3 separate regions of the Homo sapiens genome follow, and regions 1 and 3 are each linked to region 2. Evidence: fine-mapped QTL for protein levels in blood plasma. A gene starts in region 2. Each other region holds a variant in brackets. All regions are shown on one strand. Distances are from middle to middle. Region 1 overlaps PHAF1 (phagophore assembly factor 1). Region 2 holds the start of AGRP (agouti related neuropeptide). Region 3 holds the start of LOC124903703 (a long non-coding RNA gene).

What was found. PIP is the chance, under the fine-mapping model, that this variant and not a neighbour inherited with it causes the effect. Protein levels are from antibody-based Olink assays in UK Biobank. Linkage for the fine-mapping came from a reference panel and not from the study's own genotypes, which makes the PIPs less certain.
Region 1: its variant is fine-mapped to the plasma level of the AGRP protein (UK Biobank, PIP 0.90).
Region 3: its variant is fine-mapped to the plasma level of the AGRP protein (UK Biobank, PIP 0.93).

What each region holds. Positions count from the first base shown.
Region 1 is chr16:67,138,191-67,140,946 of GRCh38, forward strand. It overlaps PHAF1 (phagophore assembly factor 1), which reads left to right. Exons shown (of 16, transcript NM_025187.5): 9 at 1,794-1,927; 10 at 2,321-2,404. Among named protein-coding and RNA genes, the nearest start is that of B3GNT9, 11 kb to the right of the region's middle. The variant G/A (reference allele first, on the strand shown) is at 1,349.
Region 2 is chr16:67,482,083-67,484,838 of GRCh38, forward strand. It overlaps AGRP (agouti related neuropeptide), which reads right to left and starts at 1,465. Exons shown (of 4, transcript NM_001138.2): 1 at 1,435-1,465; 2 at 1,187-1,319; 3 at 943-1,028; 4 at 489-736. The coding sequence starts at 1,316. The coding sequence ends at 554. ATP6V0D1-DT (ATP6V0D1 divergent transcript) reads left to right here. Exons shown (of 4, transcript NR_184227.1): 2 at 2,028-2,246.
Region 3 is chr16:67,563,160-67,565,869 of GRCh38, forward strand. The region is part of intron 1 of CTCF (CCCTC-binding factor); the gene reads left to right. LOC124903703 (a long non-coding RNA gene) reads right to left here and starts at 291. Exons shown (of 2, transcript XR_007065094.1): 1 at 136-291. RefSeq lists an enhancer at 1-585 and a silencer at 339-438. The variant A/G (reference allele first, on the strand shown) is at 951.

The sequences.
Region 1 (2,756 bases), 340 kb before region 2:
GAAGAAATGTGTTAGGCCACTGGATACTTTGGGCCCAGAGTCCAGCTTGACAGGACTTTTGGTGGGTTCTATAGGTCACCCAAGGCTTGCCTAAGCCTTTATTTCCCCCTCAGTGTATACTTGCTGAGAATAGAGATTCTTGGGTTAGTTGAACTCAGTATTTAGTTATTTCAGATTTGGGTTCTCTGAAGCTTCTGCATATAAAAAATGGATTGTTACACATGAGAGAACTTTGACAACTGTAAAGCCTTGTGCTGAGTAAGATGGTGTCAGTGATTATCATGGCACCAAGAATTACAATCCTTCTCAGATTCTTGGCTTCCTTTTTTTTTTTGCTGGGTGGTGGGAGCAAAAACCTTGTCTCCCCCTCCACAAAATGGGGAAATTTTTACTGTTGGTGTATCTATTACTGTGCCACAACCACTTCTACATTTGTGTGTTTGTGTGTGTGTCATTAACTGTAATCATTTCTGAAATGTTTTATTAGAAAAAGTCAGAGCTTAAAGATTCTTCCCAAAGAATAAACTTTTGGCAAATCAGAAGGTCTTTTATTCCTCCACTTAGCTGGTTTGTCCCTTTTGAGTGATAATGGCTCTTGTCTGGGTTGGAGGGCTCTGTCAGGTGTTTGTGTAGAATTAGGGAGACAAGTAATGCATGCTTCACTCTACTTGTTGATAGAGCAGTTTTACAGGTTCAGTGTCTCTGGTTAGGGGTTACCATTGAGAGTACTTTTGTAGTTTTTTTTTAAGACAGTGTCTCACTCTGTCACCCAGGCTGGAATGCAGTGGTGTGATCTTAGCTCACTGCAGTCTCTGCCTCCTGGGCTCAAGTGATCCTCCCACCTTAGCCTCCCAAGTAGCTAGGACTGCAGGAGTGTGCCACCACGCCTGGCTAATTTTTATATTATATTTTGTAGAGCCAGGGTTTCACCATGTTGCCCAGGCTGGTCTTGAACGCCTGAGCTCAAGCAGTTCACCCCGCTTGGCCTCCCAAAGTGCTGGGATCATAGGCAAGAGCCACCACACCCGGCCAAGAAGTACCTCTTAACATAAATCCTTGCATCTTACCATAGTTGTGTGATGATCTGATTAAGGTCTTCTCCAGCACACATAAGCTCCAGTGATGGAGCTTATGGAGAAAAAACAGCACTGCCTTTTTTTTTTTTTTTTTTTTTTTTTGAGACTGTCTCAGTCTGTCACCCAGGCTAGAGTGCAGTGGTGTGATCTTGGCTCACTGCAACCTCTGCCTCCTGGGCTCAAGTGATCCTCCCACCTCACCCTTCCAAGTAGATGGGACTACAGACACCCACCACCATGCCCAGCTAATTTTTGTATGTTTTTGTAGAGAC[G/A]GAGTATCACCATGTTGCCCAGGCTGGTGTCAAACTCTGAGCTCAAACAACCCATCCGCCTTGGCCTCCCAAAGTGCTGGGATTATAGGCGTGAGCCACCACGTCTGGCCAGAAACTGCACTGTTTTTGTTCACTTTTGTTTCTTCAACATCTAGCACAATGTCCTAGCCCATGGTAGGCAATAAAGTAGTGAATGAATAAGTGAATGAAGTATCCAGAGCTTCATGTCACATGTGGGGGATTGAATAAGTCCCTGGCATTATTTTGAATAGCGATCTCTTGTACAGTCTTAAGCCCTGGTGACCTGATGTTTCTGATTGCATGCAGTCTTGCCCCTTGCCAGACCTAATAATGTAGCATGCAGCCAGTAGCTTCTCTGGGGCCCCCAGAGAGGGTCTCTGGTCCTAACCATAACCTGACAACCTCTCTGTCTTGTTTTTTGCAGGTTGTGGACCTGGCCTATTAGCAGATGCCAAGATGCGGGTATTTGAACGTTCAGTGTATTTTGGTGATTCCTGCCAAGATGTTCTTAGCATGCTTGGCTCTCCACACAAAGTCTTCTATAAATCAGAAGACAAGGTAGGGGAATTATGTTGCAGTCTCCTCCTTTTTTTTAATCAACACTAATTTAATATTGAGTATAAACTGTTTGCTATTTTCCCATAGAACTTGTTCTAAGTAAAGCTAATGGTAAAGTAAATTGAAAACTGTTTTCTAACCCCTGTAGTCCAATTACCCTGACTCTGTCCCTCTCCATAGTGCCTACCTTTCCTTAGAGACCAAGACAGTCCCTAGTCAACGACAGCTGGCCCCCTCTCCTCCTAGATTGGTCAGCACCAGCAGCTGAGACTCCCCACTCTTGCTTGTTCCGCAGCTTAATGTTACACATGGAACACAATTTGTAGACTTTCAGTTAATCCAGAACTATATTAGAGGGATGGATTTTAATTTATGGTTATTTTTTCCCTACAGATGAAAATTCATTCTCCTTCCCCTCATAAACAAGTTCCATCGAAGTGTAATGACTACTTTTTTAACTACTTCACTCTTGGAGTGGTAAGTTGTGATTCCTCAGAGAAGCCCTTCATTTCTATTGGGGTGGGCAGTGCATCTTTGCAGATCTGTGTGTCCACATGCAGCTGGAACCATGCCTGGACATTGGGGAACCTAGCCCCAGCTGTCTTTGCCCAGGGTTGTTTTGCATAGGCTCTGGTACTCCAAAGTAGACCTTGCCTGCAACCAGGATTGCTCAGGAACACTAGGTTCCCTGGTACCTGTTGACTTCTTTTCTGAGGGAAACATGTTCCACAGATGGAGGCCTTGGAAATCATTCAGATTAAGCTGTTTGGAGAGCTGCCCTTTTGTAAAGCATAGGACCCTCTTCTTGAGTCACAAAATGGAGACTGAA
Region 2 (2,756 bases):
CCCACCCTGCGTAGTGCTTTCTCGCTTTAACAAATCCCAGCTGTCTGCTTCCTTCCTGTGTGTCATTCGTTTGTTACTTTCTGGGTTTTGTTCAATTCTTTGTTCGAAACGCTAAGGACCTGAACAACGCACACTCCTGGCCTTCCCTCTGGTAACAGGATGAGGGGCAGGCTTTGCGTGGAAGTAGCAGCAAGCCCTGGAGCCTAAGGCTTATTTGTTAGCCAGGAGTGATAGCCCCTGTGCCACGCTGCGTCCTGCGTTCCCCGCACTTGCTGTACAAGATTTTCGAAAGCTGGAGTGCGGCTCTTCTCTATTTTTCCCAGGGGCACCAGGACCCCTAAAAGCGCCCGTGTATGTGCCTCCTATGATAGGGTAGCCCAGGCCCTGGGATAAGAGTATGTGTGGTTTCTTGGCTTGGTGACACTCCCACCCCCTCCATGAACCCTCCCTCCTTTGACGGCCACGTTTGAAATAACCACAGCCTTGGGGTTGGTCCCATCCTTTATTCGAGTTTCCTTGCCCCTACCCTAGCCCCGACCCTGACGTTGGCCAGCTAGGTGCGGCTGCAGGGATTCATGGCAGTACCCAGCTTGCGGCAGTAGCAGAAGGCATTGAAGAAGCGGCAGTAGCACGTGGCACATGGGTCACAGCAAGGCACCTGCTGTCCCAGGCAGGACTCATGCAGCCTTACGCAGCGACGTGAGGAGCGGGGCTCGCGGTCCTGCAGGTCTAGTACCTGCAGGGGTGGGGAACCAGCACAGGCCTCTAAAGACAGATCCAGGGATCTTACCTGTCCCAACCTGTGCAGGATGGCAGTGGAGCATGGGAAGGGGTGGTCGGTAGTGTCGTCGCTGGTGAGGGAGTTTGGAGCTGGGGAGAGGAGCTAATACCCAATGCCCCCTCCCAAGGGCCACCACCTTACCCTTTTCCCTGAGCAGTTACCTCTGCCAAGGCCTGAGCCTCCTGCAACAGATCCTCTTCTGCCTGTTCTGCAGTTGTCTTCTTCAGTGGGGCCCGCAGGCCCAGGCCTGGGGCAGAGGATGTGAGGGCAGGAACCCCCATGCACAAAGCACCCACCTCCCAGGGGAGGGTTTGGGAAGGGAGAAAGAGGGTTTATGCCAGGGGAGACTATTTGTGGCCAGAGGGTATTCAGGCCCCGCCCAGTCCCACCCTTGCTCACACTGACCTGGGAGCTCTGGGAGCAGGGCCTGGTCAGGCCTTCTGATGCCCTCCATGGGGGCCAAGCCCATCTGGGCTCCTCGCGTGGCAGGCAGTGCCAGCAGCAGGGCACAGCTCAGCACCGCTGCGGTCAGCATGGCCTGGCTCAGCAGGAAGATGTACCACTTAGTCCCTCCTTATCCTTGGAGTCCCCTCTAGGTGCCCAGATAGAGACCCCACAGAGAGGAGGAGTCCCTGCCCAACCTGAGGACTCACCTCTGCCTCCGGGATTCTTGCCTAGAGAGTTCCCGGCCACCCCGTGCCCTTGGCTTATATGGCAGGGCCTAATGAAGGGCCACACGTGACTGATCCCTGCAGCCAGGCCGTGAAGGACCCTTCCTGGAGGGTGGGGGCACAGTTCAGGCCCTCACTCCCTGAACCTGAGCCTTTTGTTCTACAAGAGGAGTGCCTATCTCCAATTTGGGGTGAGGTTTCCAGGAGCCGATTAAAATTTGGGAGCAAGAGAGGGTGCCCAGGGTCCACAAATTTCCACAGGACAGGGACCTAGGAGCTGAGCAGGGCTAGAACCATTAGCAATAACAAGGCAGGCGGCCCTGAAAGCTTAATTTAATTTGTGGCCCCAGAGATGCTTACTCAACCCCTATGTGGCATGTTGTTTCCTGTGCTTCCAAGAATTCGGGTCAAGGACATTGGAGCGGGTGATGGGCCAATGGCCACTGTTGGGCAGGGGTAGGTGCAGAACCAGAACCTGGGTTTCTTTGGAGGGAAAGGGGAAGGAAAAGCCCACCTAACCAATCCTAGGCCCTCCTGACTACATTTCTGGTCCTCCCCTCCCTTTCTCCCTCCAGGTTTCTCCAAGACCGCCCACTCCTGCTCCTGTCCCCAAACCCCTTTCTGCCTAGGGTTCCTGGAAGCCAAGGAAACAGAACGAACTGTTCCCTGGGTGGGCGAGCCACTGCAGAGTACAAAGCTTTCAGGCCGCCTGCCTCATTAGCACTAATGGCTGCTCCCTTCCGCCCTGTGTCGTCAGGACTGTCTATGCCTGGTCTCATCAGCACAAGGCTGGGGTAAGGACTGCCCTTTTGTGGAGATGGCAGGACATACAGGACCCTGCTGCCCCTGCCTTCCCTCACCCCACTGCAGAGCTGTTTATCACACACGTGTCCATCTGGGAAAGGAATGCAGGCTGAATCAGCTTTGAGAGGATCGCAAGGCCCCAGTGCACAAACTGGGTTGGCACAAGGCAGTGGAAAAAAGATGAAGGGGGCCAGGTATGGTGGCTCACACCTGTAATTCCAGCATTTTGAGAGGCCAAGGTGGGAGGATCACAAGGCCAGGGGTTTAAGACCAGCCTGGGTATCATGGTGAGACCCCGTTGCTACAAAAAATAAAAAAATAGCTGGGTGTAGTGGTGCATGCCTGTAGTAGAGGCTGAGGTGGGAGGATGGCTTGAGCACAGGGATTCAAGAGTGCAGTGAGCTATGACTGCATCACCACACTCCAGGCTGAGCGACAGAGCAAGATCCTGTCTCAAAAAGAAAAGAAGATAAAGGGTGGCCAGGCACGGTGGCTCACGC
Region 3 (2,710 bases), 81 kb after region 2:
CGCCCGCCTAGCTTAAGGGTTCGGACCGACTGCCGCCGCGCGCTAAGCCAGGTCCCGGTGCCGTATGGGTGTCGGGCCCTGGCCGTCGCGTCTCGGGCTGCCCCTCCTCCAGCCAGCCCCGTCCCCGGAACCTACCCTGCCGGCCTGCGTGCCTTCCCAGCTGCTTGGCTGCTCGGCGGTCGCTCCCAGTCCGCGCGTCGCCGCCGCTGGTCTCCGTCTCCGCCGAGTGGCGCAGGCGGCGCTGCAGCGGCTGCGAGCAGAGGGACCCCAGAGCTGCCGAGAGCTCCCTCTGCAAGGCTGGCTGAGCTGCTCGCACCTCTACGCTGCCTGAGCGGGCGGGGGGACGCGCGCTCGCCGCCCCCGCTGCGCCCCCAAACTCGCGCCCGGGTTCCTGGCCGGACCCGACCGGTGCGGCCCCCCCACGGTGGGCGGAAAAGATGCGAGTTCCGCACCAAGTAGTTTTTATCCAGCCGGGTTCGGACTCCCCAGCCGAGTGATAGCAGCCTGACTTTGTGCGCTCAGAGATCTCAAAGGGACTGAAACTTAAATTTCATTCTGATCTCAAGTGACGTGACAAATTTCTGAATTTGGGAGTATGGGCTAAGTCCCTTGAGTTTCCCTCCCGCTTTAAAATGTCCTCACACTAACTTAGTACCTGATGCTCTAGGGCTAGGTGAAGGCGGTTCTGCCCCAGGATTGTGCAACTCGATCTAGAGCGCCAGTAGGGCAGAATGAGTTTATTCTTGACTCGACTGGTAATTTGCCCATGCGATGAAATATGAGGGTTGATGTTGTAATTGAATCCTGGGTCACTTGCTGCAGATGGTTTATAAATATCTACGCCTAATGTAACTACTGTTTAGTAGGAGACTTCCTGTAGCCCCGAGTTCAGCGTTAAGTAAACATTCGCATACGTAGTCTTCATACTTTGAGTTTCGATCAACTAGGAA[A/G]GTTAAAAACCAAGTCCTCATAGGTGGGAAAGGAAGTTAAACAAGGCATATATTTAAATTTATTCGGTCCTTAAGTTTTCTTTCTTCACTAAAAAGCATCCCGTTGAATTGCGGGAGTCTTTTGCTTTTCCGTAAATATTCTAGTGCCTTAATATAGTTCATTGCAGCAGTTAATGTATCAGTTCGGGTTGTTTTGGAGAGAAGAAAGTCTGGATTAACCTGTTTTTAGGAAGGAAGCTATGTTAAGTTTATGAAGAAATTAAACAGCCTGGTCCTAACCAAAGTTGTCCAGTCCACTGTATGTAATCTCAATGTGTAGCTCCTCACTGCAGTCCTCTTCGTAGGCACGCTTTCTATGTCTCCTTTTGGAACCCTGCAAAATATTCCTGCCACCCCTCTTCCTCAATAAAATTGCATAGAGTAACTAAATGCAGTAGCGTTGATTGATAGTTAGACTTGGGAATAGAATCACCTTTAATTATCTAATATGTTAGTCCAATTGTGTAATTTATTGCATTCTTTTGTGACTTTGTTTTCCTTTTGAAATTGTGGTTAAGTAGCATGTTTTATTTATTTAAATAAGCTCAACATTGAGTTAAAAATTAAAATACAGCAGGTGTATAATCGAGCCAGGAGTAAAGCTTGTTTTCCCGGGTTAGTACTGTGCTCCATAGACCATATTTTGCTTCTTGGTTTGGTTGTTTCATATGCAGTCATCAGCTTCTTGGGTTTATACGTCATTTATGCTGTTTTAGTGGAATAGACCTTTTCCACACAGTTGCTATCCTTTGAAATTCCCATATGCCAGGAATCATGCTTTGTTTTGTTTTTATTAAAAAACAATCTACGGAGAGAATAAATTGAGGATGAATTGATATGTTAGGGTAACCCAGACCTTTTTTTTTTTTTGAGACGGAGTCTCGTTCTGTCCCCTAGGCTGGAGTGGCAGTGGTGCGATCTCGGCTCACTGCAACCTCTGCCTCCCGGATTCAAGCAATTCTCCTGTCTCTGCCTCCCAAGTAGCAGGAATTACAGGCCCGTGCCACCACGCCCGGCTAATTTTTGTATTTTTAGTAGAGACGGGTTTTCACGATGTTGGCCAGGCTGGTCTCGAACTCCTGACCTCAGGTGATCCACCCGCCTCAGCCTCCCAGAGTGCTGGGATTACAGGCGTGAGCCATCTCGCCAGGCCAGGACCTGTTATTTAAATTAGTGATAGGAGGATGATTAAAACAGGAATGTTTGCCTGCATAAGAAAATACTGCCTATTTAAGAGTAGTTGTGGCTGGGAGCGGTGGCTCACGCCTGTAATCCCAGCACTTTGGGTGACCAAGGCGGGAGAATCACGAGGTCAGGAGATTGAGACCATCCTGACTAACACAGTGAAACCCTGTCTCTACTAAAAATACAAAAAATTAGCCAGGCATGGTGGCACACGCCGTAGTCCTGGCTACTAGGGAGGCTGAGACAGGAGAACCGCTCGAACCTAGAAGGTGGAGGTTGCAGTGAGCCGAGATTGTGCTGCTGCACTCCAGCCTGGGCAACAGAGCAAGACTCTTATCTCAAAAAAAAAAAAAAAAAAAAAGAGTAGTTGTAAAGGTTAACTTTATCGGGATCCATTCAACCTATGTAAGAATTTAAGAGGTGAAGTTGTCCTTAAGATGCATTCAAATTCTAAGAGCTTTAGGATTTTATTTTAAAGTACACACGCAAATGGGGGCACTCACCTGGGACTTCTGAATGGCTTGGGGAGTTCCTTG